Homo sapiens: one gene and its partners. The protein of the gene in region 3 interacts with the protein of the main gene of each other region in a biochemical or structural test. Each region holds a gene or a part of one and is shown on either strand. Other genes may lie near its edges. The genes, in order: NUP155, NUP205 and NUP35.

What was found.
Region 1: the proteins of NUP35 (region 3) and NUP155 form a complex in vitro, tested with the Homo sapiens proteins (one study listed by BioGRID).
Region 2: the proteins of NUP35 (region 3) and NUP205 form a complex in vitro, tested with the Homo sapiens proteins (one study listed by BioGRID).

What each region holds. Positions count from the first base shown.
Region 1 is NC_000005.10:37,287,494-37,291,117, reverse strand, and holds the end of NUP155 (nuclear pore complex protein Nup155), read left to right. Parts: 3' UTR 1-2,981; downstream 2,982-3,624.
Region 2 is NC_000007.14:135,560,842-135,564,595, forward strand, and holds part of NUP205 (nuclear pore complex protein Nup205), read left to right. Parts: intron 1-3,754. UniProt on the Homo sapiens protein: Plays a role in the nuclear pore complex (NPC) assembly and/or maintenance. May anchor NUP62 and other nucleoporins, but not NUP153 and TPR, to the NPC.
Region 3 is NC_000002.12:183,127,443-183,131,196, forward strand, and holds part of NUP35 (nucleoporin NUP35), read left to right. Parts: intron 1-844; coding exon 845-1,015; intron 1,016-2,975; coding exon 2,976-3,103; intron 3,104-3,552; exon of another isoform or gene 3,553-3,675; intron 3,676-3,754. UniProt on the Homo sapiens protein: Functions as a component of the nuclear pore complex (NPC).

The DNA of each region.
Region 1 (3,624 bases), on a different chromosome or scaffold from region 3:
AACAACTGGTTTTGTCAGTTAAAGCCCTTGAGAATTGACATAGCTATATACCTGGTTGAGCAGGTGATAAAACTTGTAACTAATGTTGTGTCCTGAAAACCTACACAGGGAGGTACTGTTTTCCCTTAGTGTCTACCTGGCTGCTTGGCCTTGTGACTACTGATTCCATTAGAGCAGTGGTTCTCAAAGTATGTGCTCCAAACCAGAAGCATCAGCATCAGCATCAGCATCACCTAGGAATTTGTTAGAAATGCAAATTCTCGAGCCCCAACCCAGACCTACTGAATCAAAAACGTGGGGGATGAGGCCCTGCTTTCTATGTTTTAACAAGCTCTCCAGGAGATTTTGGTGCATGTCAAATTTGAAAGCCACTGCAGTAAAGGATACTGCTACCTTCCATAGTTTATGGACTGAGCTACCTATCTGGCTCCTCCTCTGTGAATAACCACACACACAAATTTTGCCCAAGGCACACAATATATAAAGCAAAACTGTTAGTAATGTACTTTTTAATTATTCCTTAACAAAATAGAATAACCAAACCAAATGCTTCAAAGTAATAGCAACAAGAGAGAAGAAGAGTGGGAATGACCAGAGCTAACAAAACACTCTATTCCTTTCTCTCTTTTTTTTTTTTTTGGAGACAGAATCTCACCCTGTAGCCCAGCCTGGAGTGCAGTGGTGCGATCCCGGCTCACTGCAACCTCTGCCTCACAGGTTTGAAGCAATTTGCCTGCCTCAGCCTCTCGAGTAGCTGGGATTGCAGGTGTGCGCCACCATACCCAGCTAATTTTTGTATTTTTAGTAGAGATGGGTTTCACCATGTTGGCCAGGCTGGTCTTGAACTCCTGACCTCAAGTGATCTGCCCGCCTCCACCTCCCAAAGTGTTGAGATTACAGACGTGAGCCAATGTGCCTGGCCTATTCCCTTCTCTCTTTATGCTACCACAAATAATTACCTTCTGTTTATTGTAAGTGATGCATGTCTAACAATTTGTACAATACATTTTGAATATATTTTTCCTTCCATTATTGTCTTTTCCCAAGACCATAGGGTTGCCTTCTCTACATTTGTTCTCTTAGAATTCAGCTCCCTTTTCCCTATAATCTTCTAATGTAGAATATTTAATAGAATGCCAGAACGTCACTCAGTGGGTACTACTACCTCTTATTTTTCAACTTTTCAGTTTCTTAAGTTTAGCGTTTTTTGAATATGTAAAGTGAATGTATGCGATACATTAATTCGTTTTATAAATTTAAAATTCTGTCATGTCTACTTAAAAGGAAGGCCTTGTCTGAATGTTGTAATTTAGGTGTGACTCCAGTTCTGCTAGAGATAAGAACTTCATTTTTGTTTTAAGCACATTTACATACTAGCAATATGTTGTTATATATACTCAGCTCACAACATTGAAAGTACATGTTTTAAAAGGGCTGTAGGCTTCCATGGTTAGATGGTCTGTTAGAGTCAGAAATCTGAACACTGTCCTTTTATTCACACAGCATGCTTTGAGAGGTTTTAGGAATTCCAGCCCCACAACAGATGCTTGCAATACCTTTTGGGGGGTAAGATTCCTAAGAGAGAAGAAATTAGGTCCCCTCATTTTTACCCTTGGAACAGTGTTTCTAAAACTTTCACATTCAGAACAATCAGCCGGATAGCCTGTTATGACAGATTCTTGAGTTCCATCTGTAGTGTCATGCTGATCCTGGCAGTCAGTGGATCAGAGTTGGAGTAGCATTTATCCACTGTATTAGTATACTTTGTACTTGGTGTTTGTTCAACGCATTACTTTTTTGAATTTTTTTGTTTTTTGAAGACAAGGGCTTGCCCTGGAGTGCAGTGGCATGATCTTGGCTCACTGCAGCCTCGAGCTCCTGGGCTCAACTCAGTCTTCCCACCTCATCCTCTTAAATAGCTGGGACTACAGGCACGTGCTGCTACACCCTGCTATTGTCTGTTTGTTTGTTTGAGACTGAGTTTTGCTCTTGTTGCCCAGGCTGGAGTGCAATGGCACAATCTTGGCTCACCACAGCCTTTTTTATGAGACTGAGTTTTGCTCTTGTTGCCCAGGCTGGAGTGCAATGGCACGATCTTGGCTCACCACAACCTCCACTTCCTGGGTTCAAGCAATTCTTCTGCCTCAGCCTCCCGAGTAGCTGAGATTACAGGCATGCGCCACCATGCCTGGCTAATTTTTTTTTTTTGTATTTTTAGTAGAGATGGGGTTTCACCGTGTTGGTCAGGCTGGTCTTGAACTCCTGACCTCAGGTGATCCACCCCCCTTGGCCTCCCAAAGAGCTGGGATTACAGGCATGAGCCACTGCGCCTAGCCCCACCCCCCCTACTTTTTTTTTTTTTTTTTTTTTAATTTTTTGTGTAGCCAAAAGATCTCACTCTGTTGCCCAGACTGCTCTCAAAACTCCTGGCCTTAAGTGATTCCCCTGCCTCAGTCTCCCAAAGTGCTGGGATTATAGGCATGAGCCACCATGCCTGTCCATTATTTCTTTATAGTGACTATTATATGTAGGCAATGTATAATTGGTAGAACATAGTCTATGAAACAGTGCGTTAATTGTGGGCAGTGAAGAATCATTGAAGTTGTGAAATTTGTATTTTAACTAGATCATTGTAGTATGGCAAAACGGTTAGGAAAGAGAAAGCTATCTTGACTAACTGTTTATGCTATGAGATACTGACTGATGTACATGTACATTTAGTGTTTCTTTAGGTATACCTGACTTATTCATTGAACACCTATCCACTGATCTCAAAAGTATTCCTCAGGGTAGTCTCCATTCCTGTCATTTTTCCTCCTATTCATGAGACGGAAAAATTATGACCATGGTACAGAGTTGTATCAAGGAAATGAAGAACTAGAACATTGAATTGAAAGGTTTTGAAAGGGTTCACAATTTCTTTTCATTTTCTATTAATGTCTTCTTTTAAATTCTCTTAAGAATAAAACTTTTTTCTAATATTTTAAGTCTTCCATTAAATCATTGAAACTCTTCTGAGCTTCGTTTTCCTCATATATAAATGAGATTGAAGCCAAATAATAAAACTTTAAAAATCAATCAAGGGCCAGGTGCAGTGTCTTACACCTGTAATCCCAGAACTTTGGGAGGCCAAGGCAGGTAGATCACCTGAGGTCAGGAGTTTGAGACCAGCCTGACCAACATGGTGAAACCCCGTCTCTACCAAAAATACAAAAAAGTTAGCCGGGTGTGGTGGTGGGTGCCTGTAGTCCCAGCTACTTGGGAGGCTGAGGCATGAGAATCACTTGAACCTTGGAGACAGAGGTGCAGTGAGCTGAAATCCCACACCACTGCACTCCAGCCTGGGCGACAGAGGAAGACTTGGTCTCAAAAACAAAACAAAATCAATTTACCATGTGGGATCCGGGATCCCCATGTATGTTTTCAACCCACATTAGAAATGACCCCCTAAAGCACCTCTGTCAAAACAACCAAACCTGAACTCATCCCTCTCTGCCCTCTGCCCACTCTTGCTGTTCTTCCTTGTTTTCTACCTCTTTATTGTCTCAAATAGAAAATATGAAAATCATTACATTGTCCTCCCTTCAAAACCAGTTTTTAAGCAAGTCTACTTGATATCCCCCA
Region 2 (3,754 bases), on a different chromosome or scaffold from region 3:
TGTTTAGGGGGCATAGAGTTTCTGTTTTGCAAGATGAAAAAAGCTGTGAAGATCTGTTGCACAATGTGAATACACTGAACACTGCTGAACTGTACACTTAAAATTTGTTGAGATTGCATTCTATGTTATGTGCTTCCTTTAAATTACAGTTTTAAAAAATCAAACATCTTGGAGTTGTAAGGAAAAAATACAGAGATTGTAGAGTTCTAAGACCTATGGTTGGCCAGGTGTGGTGGCTTATGCCTGTAATCCCAGCACTTTGGGAGGCTGAAGTGGGCAGATCACCTGAAGTCAGGAGTTCGAGACCAGCCTGGCCAACATGGTGAAACCCTGTCTCTACAAAAATACAAAAATTAGCCTGGCATGATGGCAGGTGTCTGTAATCCCAGCTACTCGGGAGGCTGAGGCAGGAGAATTGCTTGAACCCAGGAGGAGGAGGTTGCAGTGAGCCGAGATCATACCACTGCACTCCAGCCTAGGCAACAGAGCGAGACTCTGTCTTAAAAACAAACAAACAAAAAACAAACAAAAAAACCTATGCTTGTATTTCAGCTGTATAACTTAACTAGTCTTGTGACCTGTATCAACCTGGCTGAGTACACTCACAGACTTGTGAATAAGCAACTATTAACACTGCTTGGCAGTCCTTCTGTGATAGTCTGGTCACCTCGTCCATTCACAGCAGTGACTACTTCAGACCTTTCTACACTCTTCAAATCTTTAACCTGCAACTAACTAAACCCTCAGACTTCTAGTCACAGAGAAAATAGGAGCCAACATACATGAACTCCCTTTATTCACTCTCAAACCTACAAACCTAGGTGTGTCTGCATTCTTTTGAATCACTTTTCCTCTGTCTTCCTATCTAATGTAAATCCCACCCATTGTGTTCTTCACCTGTTACCCCTTTTTTTGTCTTGTATATTCACTTCTCTCTCTTGCTCTTCCCTTTCTCTCCACTGATGATCTCATGCGTCACTCCACTTACTGTCCTCTTCCTAGTCAAGCCTTTCAAAAGATTTGTTAGTATTCATGGACTCCATCTCCTTCCTTCCTTTGTTCCTTCCTTCCTTCCCTCCTTCCTTCCTTCCTTCCTTCCCTCCCTCCCTCACTCTGCCCAGGCTGGAGTGCAGTGGTGCAGTCTCGGCTCACTGCAGTCTCCACCTCCCAAGTTTAAATGATTCTCCTGCCTCAGCCTAGTAGCTGGGATTACAGGCCTGAACTGCTATGCCCAGCCTACTGACTCCCTTTTCATACCTCCTATTCCTTCACCCATTCTGGTCTCTTCCATCCTTGTAAACAGCTCTCAATAGGGTTAACTTCTGTTTCTTGTAGTTCAGAAAGTTCCTTTTTAAAAAATTATTTTTTATTTTGAGACAGGGGCTCATTCTGTCGCCCAGACTGGAGTGCGGTGGTGTGATCTCAGCTCACTACAACCTCTGCCTCCCAGGTTCAAGAGATTCTCCTGCCTTAGCCTCCCTAAGTAGCTGGGATTACAGGCGCCCACCACCACACCTGGCTAATTTTTGTAATTTTAGTAGAGATGGGGTTTCACCACGTTGGCCAGGGGTGCCTCGAATTTCTGACCTCAAACGATTCACCTGCCTCGGCCTCCCAAAGTGCTGGGGTTATAGGCATGAGCAGAAAGTCCCCATGTTTTAAATCTTCATTTGGCTTGATCTTTTAGAGTAAAGACCAAAATCCTTTTTTTTTTTTTTTTTTTTTGAGACAGAGTCTGGCTCTGTTGCCAGGCTGGAGTGCAGTGGCGCGATCTTGGCTCACTGAAACCTCTGCCTCCCAAGTTCAAGCGATTCTCTTGCCTCAGCCTCCTGAGTAGCTGGGACTACAGGCGTGCGCCACCACACCCAGCTAATTTTTGTATTTTTAGTAGAGCAGGGTTTCACCGTGTTGGCCAGGATGGTCTTGATCTCCTGACCTCGTATCTGCCCGCCTCGGTATCCCAAAGTGCTGGGATTACAGGCCTGAGCCACCACACTCGGTCATCAAAATTCTTTAACGTGGGCAAGTGAGCCCTGTGTGATGATCTTGCCAAACCCGTTTTCTGTACTGCAGCTCTCTTGGCCTTTTGAGTTCTTTGACATGCCGCATTCCCTCTTGCCATGGAAACCCACAGGTTGTCCTCTCCCTGGAATGCATGTCTTCACCTCCCACCTGTCAGTTAACTATCACTTTTGTTCTTCAGATTTCAGCCTAGTTATCACTTCCTCATGGATAATTCTTTCCTCTGGCTAGGTCAGAGTCCCCTATTATGTGATCTCTTGCCCTGGCTACCTCTCCTTCATATCCTTCATATCCTGACCACAGTTGGATTTTATTTTATTTTTATTTATTTTTTTATTTTTTGAGATGGAGTCTTACTCTGTAGCCCAGGCTGGAGTGCAGTGGCGTGATCTCGGCTCACTGCAGCCTCCGCCTCCTGGGTTCAAGCGATTCTCCTGCCTCAGCCTCCCTAGCAGCTGGGACTACAGGCGCATGCCATCACGCCTGGCTAATTTTTTGTATTTTTGGTAGAGACGGGGTTTCGCTGTGTTGGCCAGGACGGTCTTGATCTCCTGACCTCGTGATGTGGCCCGCCTTGGCCTCTCAAAGTGGTGGGATTACAGGCGTGAGCCACTGTGCCCGGCCAGATTTTACATTTATGTATGATTATGATTAATGTTTTTCCTCACTGCAGTATAATCTTACCAATACCTCACACATGGTGAATGAGTGAGTAAATGTGATTTGCTGGAGGTATCCCTAAACATTAAGGAAAATAAATGTATTTCTCAACTGACTAAACTACATGGTAAAAATACATATTTAGTAATTTTGAAAAATTTATAGTGTCCCTTCATTTGTAATCAGTAAAAAAGATATTTACTGTAATCCTAGCACTTTAGGAGGCTGAGGAGGGAGGATCACTTGAGGCCAGGAGTTCAAGGCAAGCCTGGGCAACATAGCAACATCCCAGTTCTACAAAAAATACAAAAATTAGCCAGGTCTGGTGGTGCGCGTGCGCCTGTAATCCTAGCTACTAGAGAAGCTGAGGCAGGAGGTTGCTTGAGCCCAGGAGTTTGAGGCTGTAATGAGCTGTGATTGCCTCACTGCACTCCAGCCTGGGTGACAGCAAGACCCTGTCACAAAAAACAAACAAAAAAAAGGTGTTTACTGAAATTGGTCAAACTCAAGACAGATTGAAGATAACTCTTTGTTGCGGCTACCTTTGGTGTTTTTTTTTTCTTTTTCTTCTTTGAGACGAGGTTTCACTCTGTTGCCCACGCTGGAGTGCAGTGGCTCAGTCATGGCATACTACAGCCTCTACCCTCTGAGACTCAGGTGATCCTCCCACTTCAGCCTCATGAGTAGCTGAGACTATAGGCACAAGCCACCATGCCCAGCTATTTTTTTTTTTTTTTTTTTGAGACGGAGTCTTGCCCTGTCACCCAGGCTGGAGTGCAATGGCATGATCTCAGGTGACTGCAACCTCTGCCTCCTGGGTTCAAGCAATTCTCCTGCCCCGGCCTCCCAAGTAACTGGGATTACAGGTGTTAGCCACCATGCCCAGCTAATTTTTTTGTGTGTGTTTAGTAGAGACAGGGTTTCACCATGTTGGCCATGCTGGTCTTGAACTCCTGACCTTGTGATCTGCCCACCTCGGCCTCCCAAAGTGCTGGATTACAGGCATGAGTCACCACGCCCGGCCTGTTTTTTTTTTAAATAGAGACAGGGTTTTGCCATGTGACCCAGGCTG
Region 3 (3,754 bases):
GATTAAGAAAAAAGATACAAAAATAAGTTTTCGACTCTTTTCAACATGTTTCTGAGTTAGGGTGCTAGTTATCACTGTTATTTTGTAAGTGCTCTAATATATGCATGGTTACGGTTTTATCACAATAATGATGAACTTTTTATGGGGAAGAAAAAGAAACAATTTAGCAAGCTTAACCCATTGTGTTTGATATGCTAAGCTTTGTATGTATAAGTAGTGCAGCCTGTCCTTGTTTTTGGTTGTTACATAGTCCAAACTGATTCGGAAATGGAAAGAAGTTATTAGTGTGATTTTTAAACCCCTGAAATAATGTAAACAAAAATAGCTGTCACAGATAAATATTGTGCTGCCAGGTGTACTGGCTTCACACCTTTAATCTCAGCACTTTGGGAGGCCAAGGCTGGTGGATCACCTGAGCTCAGGAGCTCCAGAGCAGTCTGGGCAGCATGGTGAAACCCCATTTCTGCAAAAAAATACAAAAATTAGCTGGGCGTGGTGGTGCAGGCCTGTAGACTTAGCTACTGAGAGGCTGAGGAGGGAGGATCGCTTGAGCCTAGGAGGTGAAGGTTGCAGTGAGCTGAGATTGCGCCACTGCACTCCAGCCTGGTGACAGAGTGAGACTCGGACTCAGAAAAAAAAAAAAAGTGAATACAAGATAACTTTACATTTTTCTAGAAATATTTTTTGTTGGCTTTTAAAATAATAAATTCAACTATGGTTCTATTATATCTAAAAGTTTTGATTAAATTTGCAAAATTATGTTAGATTCTTGCATGTTTTTGTCATCAACATGTAACAGAAACTGTAACAGAAAAGTCCTTAATTTATTTTTTGATTCATGTAGGATCTGAACCAATGATGCTGGGTTCACCCACATCTCCAAAGCCAGGAGTTAATGCCCAGTTCTTACCTGGATTTTTAATGGGGGATTTGCCAGCTCCGGTGACTCCACAACCTCGATCAATTAGTGGCCCTTCAGTAGGAGTAATGGAAATGAGATCACCTTTACTTGCAGGTAGGTGAATTGCTTAAAATAATTTTATAGACATGCTAGATACAGGGATGTCCAATTTTTTGGCTTCCCTGAACCACATTGGAAGAAGAATTGACTTGGGCCACACATAAAATACAGTAACTCTAATAATAGCTGATGAGCTAAAAAAAAAAAAAAATGCAAAAAAAATCTTAAAATGTTTTAAGAAAGTTTACCAATTTGTGTTGGGCAACATTCAAAGCCATCCTGGGCTTCATGCGGTGTTCAAGCCATGGGTGGGACAAGCTTGTGCTAGAATTTTTAAAAGTGTAGTGGTGCAGCATTCACCCTCATCAATACATTAATTAAAAAAAATTAAGCAATGTGTCTATTATAAAGCAAAGCTTTTAAGGCTCTTGGAATAGAGGTGTAAGAAGTATAAGCTATAATTTCTAGAGCCACTAAAATGTATTCTATGTTTTTTTCATTCTAAGATGCCTTTGAATTGGCTTTTAAGTACCACTAGGAAAGATAACCCTAAATATGACACAATGCTAAGATGCCATTTTTTGTAAAATTTCTGTGTCGGAGATGTCAGAGTGTGGTGGGGGAAGAGTGCCTCACAGAGTTGATGAAATACCATCATTTAGCTTCAACTGAATTCATTTAAAGTAATTCATCTTAAGATACAAGAATAGGAAATAATCGGTCAAAAGAAGTGTAACTTGAAGATGTAGATACGAATTCTGCCTTTAGTCTTAGTGAATTGAGATTCTCACATATAGCGTGTTTAAGGAAACTTGGGGGGGAGGTTTTATACACAGAATTTGTGATTGTCAGGGCAAAGTATTGTAAATGCAGCCTGTGTTTATTACAGAACTCCTTTAGCAAAGAAATACTTTAAAAAATGACTTCGAAGTTTTAACTGAGTAGTGAGAATTAGATACAGAAGTGTTGAATTCTAATTGTGAGCTAATATCCTTTAGTAGTAGTTCAAGTGAAAACTCTTTTTACCTTAATTGCCCTTTAAAGTATTTTTGCTTTAAAATGGTTTATTATTTAGGATTTATCAGGGAGAATTATAAATTATATTTGAAGTAATTCATTTAACATTAAACATTAAATTTCAAATGTGTTATTTTATTATGGTAGCCAACGTATATTGATTGCTTATGAGCCTGGCAGTATGCTAATCATTATTTTGTCAATCTTAAAGGGTAGGTAATAGTATCCCCATCTTTAAAAAGAGAAAACTGAGGCTAAATGCAATAAGTAATTTGCTGAAGCTCACTTGCTAGTAAGTGAGCGAGCGCTATAAACCTCAGGTTAGTCTTATTCCATAGACTGTGCTCTAAATAGCTTAAGCTGTACAGTCCAGGCTCAGACATTAGTCTTACCGATGGCCTGGGCTGCATCACTATTTGACATTGCATGTTCTCTGATCGATAAAGACATCTTTATGTCACAGAACTTGGTCCTTTTACTACATCTTTATTATGTACTTAAATATATTTCTACTGTGAGAAACATGAATGGGATCTACTTAATCTAGATAGTCAAACTCTACATAGGGAATTGTATTTATTCAGGAATCTACAGACTGGAGCTGTTTAGTACCTACTTTCAAGTGAGAAATGGGATCAAGTTTTGTATTTAAATGTTAAGCGTTTTGTAGAGTGAGCAAAAGTTACATGTGTTTTCTGAAAACTAAGATTTTCATTAACTACTTACTCTGAATCCTTTTATTCAGAGTGCAGTCTATGGATCAGCAGCATTGGCATTACCTGGGAGCTTATTAGAACTGTATAATCTCAGGCTTCACCCTACACCTTCTGAATCAGAGTCTGAATTTTAACAAGGTCCCCAGGTGACTGTTCAGCATATTAAAGTTTGAAAAGAACTAACAGACAAGATTTTAAGTCAGTATTTCAAAAATATAAATTTAAAAAATCTTACCAAAAAGAAGAATCCCTTTTTTTTTTTTTTTTTTTGTACACTGTAGGTGGGTCACCACCACAACCAGTTGTACCAGCTCATAAAGATAAAAGTGGCGCTCCACCAGTTAGAAGTATATATGATGACATTTCTAGCCCAGGACTTGGATCAACACCTTTAACTTCAAGAAGACAGGTAATATAAATACCCTTTTGATCCCCAATGAACAACATCATGGTTTTATGTGTCTGTTCAGTGAGAGTCAATACTTTGAAATGTTTCCCTGAAGTCTGTTTTAATGTAACTGTGTTGCACAGAATAAACATTAAACACATCATAGAATCTACTTAAATTGTGTTGATGATGAACTGTACTTAACAGTGTAGAACTCTAGATTTTCTCTCATAGGTAATTCTCAGGTGTTTATAGGTATGCCTTATCCACCTGCCCATAGCTCCAACCTACTTAATATACATGTAGAATGTGACTATGGTTTAAATCATTCTGATTGTTTAAGAAGTTTAATATTTAATATTTAAAAATTATGTGAAAGAACAAATGAAAATTTAGAGTTTCATCTAGATCTAGGGCACTCGTCAGCTGAGAAGTAGTATGGACTTGTCTTTATTTTCTTCTTTTTTTAGGGTCCCCAACAGGGTCCTGATCAGTTGCCCAGGCTAGAGTGCAGCGGCACAGTCATAACTCTGCAGCCTTGAACTCCTGGGTTCAACCAATCCTCCTGCCTCAACTGTCCTATTGGGATATAGGCACGTGCTGCTATGCCTGGCTAATTGTATTTTTTTTTGTAGAGATGAGGTCTTGCCGGATTCAGGTGATCCTTGCACC